Linked DNA regions of Homo sapiens: region 2 is linked to region 1. Evidence: fine-mapped expression QTL. A gene starts in region 1. The other region holds a variant in brackets. All regions are shown on one strand. Distances are between the middles of the regions.

Evidence for each region. PIP is the estimated chance that this variant, and not a neighbour inherited with it, causes the effect.
Region 2: its variant is fine-mapped to the expression of PCMT1 in blood mononuclear cells (TOPMed, PIP above 0.99).

The regions. Positions count from the first base shown.
Region 1 is chr6:149,748,118-149,751,024 of GRCh38, reverse strand. PCMT1 (protein-L-isoaspartate (D-aspartate) O-methyltransferase) reads right to left here and starts at 1,284. Exons shown (of 8, transcript NM_001360452.2): 1 at 1,069-1,284. The coding sequence starts at 1,123. It also overlaps a transcript of NUP43 not described here. RefSeq lists enhancers at 1-353, 1,319-2,284 and silencers at 458-752, 678-914, 1,145-1,534.
Region 2 is chr6:149,841,417-149,844,323 of GRCh38, reverse strand. It overlaps LRP11 (LDL receptor related protein 11), which reads left to right. Exons shown (of 7, transcript NM_032832.6): 3 at 1,200-1,341. RAET1E-LRP11 (RAET1E-LRP11 readthrough) reads left to right here. Exons shown (of 15, transcript NR_182438.1): 11 at 1,200-1,341. Among named protein-coding and RNA genes, the nearest start is that of RAET1E-AS1, 21 kb to the left of the region's middle. The variant C/T (reference allele first, on the strand shown) is at 1,270.

The DNA.
Region 1 (2,907 bases):
TTTTTTAATGGTGCCAGCCGTTAAGGAAATTACAAATCGAGTTGAGAAATAAGACAAACACATGAAAAGCTAAGTAACACAGGACAATTAAAAATACCATGTGACAAGATATGATTACTGCATAGTAGCGAATAATGCTATAAATTCTGACCAGTGAGTTTATTATAGACTGCGGCCCTTGTAGTCTCCCAACAAAACGGGGACGCTATATTTCGATTTAAAAAAAGAAAGTGACACAGCACTCATCCTATCCTAAAATTATCATCAGAAGAAGGAATACAGTAACTAAGGAGAGTGATATAAAGAAACTCCACATAAGGTTTTTAAAGCCTATGGTAGCCCTGAAAAAAGTTAGAACATCAGACACACAACCCTCTGCTGATCCAGGACCTGCAAAGGCTCCTGAAATACAAGTCTCTCAGGAACAGCATCCCCTGTTCTTTCTCCGCCCCGCACGGAGCTTTCCACTGGACAGCCGCCCGAGAAATTTCTCCCAGCATCTGCAATGGCAATACTCTCATCTTCCTCCCCTCGCCTGTATCAGACGGTGGCATCTCCCTCCAGGGGAAAAAACGGAGGGCGGGGGAGGCTGCATAAGAGGGAAAGCTTGCAGCGAGGTTGATTATGGAGGAGGAAGGTGAGAAAAATGCAGGGGACGAGGGTGGGGTCTCCTGAGCGCCAGCCCACTCTCCATAAGGCCTAGCCCACACGCTCCCACCCCGAAGGCACGCCCCTCACAAGCCGGACCCGGACGCGGACCTGAGTGACAGCAGCATCACCTGTACTGCACTCCCTCCCCCAGGGCCTGCAGGGAGACGACTGCCCCTGCCCCCACCAGCAGCGGCCCCTGGCTCTTTCTCTCCCCTTCCAGTCCACGTCGTCGACGAGTGACAGGTCCCGAGGGAGGCGACTGCAAGCGCACGCCGTTCGGGACTACCGGGGCAACTCTGCGCCGAAGCCCTCCAACAGGCGCGCGGGGACAGACAGAACGTTCCGGACGGCCCAGGGGGACCCGGTCCAGGCCCAGCCTGCCCCAGCTGCCCTACAACGGGCGGAGGTGGCACTTACTGCGGAGATTGTGGATTAGCTCCGAGTGGCTGGCGCCGCCGGATTTCCAGGCCATCGCTAAGCACACTCGGAGCAGGTACAGAACCACCTTCAGCGCGACGACGGTGCCCAGCAGTTTTCCCAAGAGTGAGACCACCTCCCACACCGTCACCGCCCCGCTCGCGTCCCCGCTGTAGCTGCCGCTGTTACTGCCGTCGCCGCCGCTGCCGCCACTGCGCGCTCCCGGCATCCCCCGCGGCACGCATGCGCTCTGTGACGCCGCGCGGCTTAGGGTGCGGCCGGGTGGGGCCGAGGGCGGGGGAGGCGTGTGGCCCAGCCGCCCGCCCCTGTGGCTGCTACCGCTGCCAGGGGACTGCAGGGAGGCCGGGCTGAGTCAGCGCCACTTCCGCTGCTGCGTGTCCCTTTCTGAGGCCTCGGACCGCACCGCTTTCGCCCTGCGGCCCGGCTCGGTAGCCTGATCAGTCGCGTTCCCGGCTGTGTCTCCGGTCACCGAGCGGGACGGCGGGATGGCGGGGTCGATCTGTGCAGACGCTGCTAGTGGTTCCGCAGTCGTCGCTGGGTCAGCTGTTTCGAGCGGCGGATCTGCTCCTATAGATGTCCAGATTGTTAGACGGTGGGCTTCATCCGTCCTACCTCGCCCAACCCAGTTGACTAATATTTGGGTCGGTGGAGCCCGAATAATACAATAAGAATAAAACCCAACGACAAAGGCCCTCTCTAACCCGAGTACACCGGCCTCTGGCTTTGTGACAAGCACGTCACTGTTAGGCTAAGCAGAGACTTTGGAACCCCGGTTCTAAAGCTCTCAGAGTGGAAGAGTACCAGGACATGGGGGTGGGGGTTGGGGCAAAGCTTTGCTCCCTTAGAATAATACCAACGTACAGAGTTGCGATTGGTTAAAAAATACCACTGTGTCCTTTGGTGAACGTGTTATTCTCCCGACGTAAGTGTGCATTTCCACCTAATTAAGCCTCACAAATTCCACCGTGGCTTTATTGCTCTCAGCTCTGCAAGACCATGAGTGAGAAGCTCACTGAGAACATTGCTTGTCGCGTCCAAATCGCTGACTCCTAATTAGACCTGAGACTGACAGAATCCAGCCATCATCTAGTCCAGTAACTTTTTTTTTTTTTTTTTTTTTTTTTTTTGAGACGGAGTCTCGCTCTGTCGCCCAGACTGGAGTGCAGTGGCGCGATCTCGGCTCACTGCAAGCTCCGCCTCCCAGGTTCAGGCCATTCTCCTGCCTCAGCCTCCCGAGTAGCTGGGACTACAGGCACCCGCCACCACGCCCGGCTAATTTTTTGTATTTTTAGTAGAGACAGGGTTTCACCGTGTTAGCCAGGATGGTCTCGATCTCCTGACCTTATGATCCGCCCGCCTCGGCCTCCCAAAGTGCTGGGATTACAGGCATGAGCCACAGCGCCCGGCCTCCAGTAATCTTTTAGAAGGAAACAAAGCTAAGACATCTGTGCCACTATATCAGCACAATTTTCAAATTCTAGTTCTTATCCGATTTTGTAAAATGTGACACTGGCCTGCTTCCAATCCAAAATCAACATTACCTATTTTCTGGGATTATGTGACCATAAATGAAACTACAGGCAAAACTGGTTTCTTTTTGTTTTTTTGCTTTTGATTGAGACGGAGTCTCACTCTGTAGCCCAGGCTGGAATGCAGTGGCATGATCTTGGCTCATTGCAACCTCCACCTCCCAGGTCCCGGTTCAAGCAATTCTGCCGCAGCCTCCCGAGTAGCTGGAATTACAGGCACGCACCACCATGCCCAGCTAATATTTTTGTATTTTTAGTAGAGACAGGGTTTCACCATGTTGACCAGGCT
Region 2 (2,907 bases), 93 kb before region 1:
AACAGCCAAAGTGGCCAGCATGGCCAGATACAGTAAGAGGGCCAGTTAAACATGGATTTTTTTTTTTTTTTTTGAGATGGAGTCTTGCTCTGTCAGCAGATTGGAATGCAGTGGGTGATCTTGGCACACTACAACCTCTGTCTCCCAGTTTTAAGCGATTCTCCTGCCTCAGCCTCCCGAGTACCTGGGACTACAGGCGCACGCCACCATGCCCAGCTGATTTTTGTATTTTTAGTAGAGATGGGGTCTCACCATGTTGGCCAAGATGGTCTCCATCTCCTGACCTCATCATCCGCCCGCCTTGGCCTCCCAAAGTGCTGGGATTACAGGCATGAGCCACCGTGCCCAACCAAGCATGGATTTTTTAAAAATAGTATTGTTGGTCTTGACACCTAGGAGACTTTTGCTAGGTCAGTTAGTGAGTTTTGCCAGCACTGTTTCAGGGGGATGGTGGGGAAAGCAGCTACATTGGGTGGGCGAAGACTAAATGGGAAGTGAGCAAACAGAAACAGCAAGCACGGCACAGCCAGGCCTTTCAGGGAGCCAAGTGGAGATGGGAAGGAAGCGGGGCTGTGGCTGGTGAGCCCTTAGAGCTCAGGGAATTTTTTTTATTTGTTGTTTTGTTTGTTTCTTAGGATGAGAGAAACTTGAGCATAGTAATAGCAGAGCCATTTGAAAGAGAAATGAGTCGATGTGTCAGTGTTCTAAAGGTCCTAGAAAGAAAGGGGGCAAGGACTAGAAGGAGGGGTTGGCCTGGAACACAGGAGGGACAGCTTCTCCCTGCTGGCTGTCAGAAGGAAGTGACAGTGGGTACAGGTAGGGTACCAGGAGGAGGTGGGTGGTGGAGCCCTAGTCATGGTCCTGATTTTCTCCCTGAAGCTGATGAGTCCCCCTGCTGAGACGGCAGGGCCTGGATCCTGAGCGTGAGGCTGGGGATGAGGTGCAGGTTTGGAGCAGCAACTGCTGCAGACAAGTGAAGGGATTGTCAGTCAAGGCCTTGGCCACCTAAATAAACTAGAACTTATGAGTTCAAGGTGGGCCAGCTGCCAACAGTGTGTGATGTAGTTCAGCAGCCTCGGGCCGGAGTGCAGAGGCAGGTCCTGGGGCTGCTCTGAGGACATGGACTTTCGGTTGAGGATGGTGTTGGGCTCGGAGCTCAAGTCTGCTGCTCGACGTGATGTGTCCCATCTGTGTGGCAGGTGCCTCAATCAGGAACCCTGAAGCTGTCCCACCTACAGGAGGGAACCTACACCTTCCAGCTGACCGTGA[C/T]GGACACTGCCGGGCAGAGAAGCTCTGACAACGTGTCAGTGACAGTGCTTCGCGCAGCCTACTCCACAGGAGGTGAGAAGAAAGTCCTTCCCTCGCTTCCCACTGCTTGTGGAAGGCAATGTCGGGTTGGCGCTTTGTCCTCTGGCTCTGCGCTCCATGGGCTCTTCCATTTTATTTTTGGTTATTGCTGAATGAGAGAGTCTTTGCTAAAAACACAATAACAAAAGCAGGCTCTCTTCTGTTTTGGGCTTAGCCGATGCTACTGGGTTGGGGTGGAGGAAGCACTCCAGGGGATGAGAAGAGATGCTCCCGCTTCTCTTGACTCGACTTCATCAAAGACAATTGCTTGGCTATTCTGGGAGAGGACTTTGTTTACAGATGGATGGTCCATTTGCTGCATCTGTTCCAAGAGGGAAGCTAAGGAGTTTAGTGAAACCAGTTGAACTCGTGGAAGCAGAGAGTGGAATGGCGGTTACTGGAGGCTGTGCGGGGGACGGACTGGGAAAGGAGAGACGCTGGTCAAAGGGTACAAAGTGTCACTGAGACCGGAGGAACAGGTTCTGGTGATCTGTTGCACAGCATGGTGACTATAGTTAATGATAATGTATTGTCTGTTTCAAAATTGCTAAAACAGTAGGTTTTAAATGTTGTCATCACAAAAAGATTACAAGTAGGGGAGATGATAGATATGTCAGTTAGCTTGATGTAATCATTCCACAATGCAAACATATATCAAAACATCACATTGTGCCTCATAAATATATACTCTCCTCTTTTGTCAATTAAAAATACATATTAAAAAAACAAGGAAAAGGCATACCACAGGATTGAAGAAAGACTTGGCTCTTGGGTGTAATCAATTGCTGATATAATAAGTCACTTCAAAAATTTTAGAAAGAGAAAAAGAGTGCAGCTAAGGAGTACGGTTAAAATTAATTGAAATACGCAAAGGACCCATCAATTTGAAAGTGCTACCTACACATTTTCATAGACACTTTACGCAGATGCAGTTATATTAATAATATAACTTTAAATACATATGATGGTTCTCACATTCTGTTGTACAATGTAACAATGTAAAACTTATTTCATTCATCTATGTTTCTTACTTTTCTAAACATCTACATTTTTTTTTTGAGAGGGAGTTTTGCTCTTGTTGCCTAGGCTGGAGTGGGAGTGCAGTGGTGCAGTCTCGGCTCACTGCAGCCTCTGCCTCCTGGGTTCAAGTGATTCTCCTGCCTCAGCCTCCCAAGTAGCTGGGACTACAGGTGTGCACCACCACGCCCTGCTAATTTTGTATTTTTAGTAGAGACAGGGTTTCACCATGTTGGCCAACCTGGTCTCGAATTCCTGACCTCAGGTGATCCACCCGCCTCAGCCTCCCGAAGCACTTAGACTACAGGCGTGAACCACCGCGCCCAGCCCAACGTCTACATGTCTAAGAAAGATTAGGTCATCAAATTTTTTAAAATATCCATTGCATGGAACTTAGCGACACTAAAGATATTGTAGTATTGTAGAGGGAACCCCTCACCACACACACAATTCACTTCTGGAGAGGTGCTAAGGTCTTGTACATTTAAATATCCTGTTACTCGGTCATCGTGTATTTTCTTAGTGTATGCAGTGTGCAGGGTC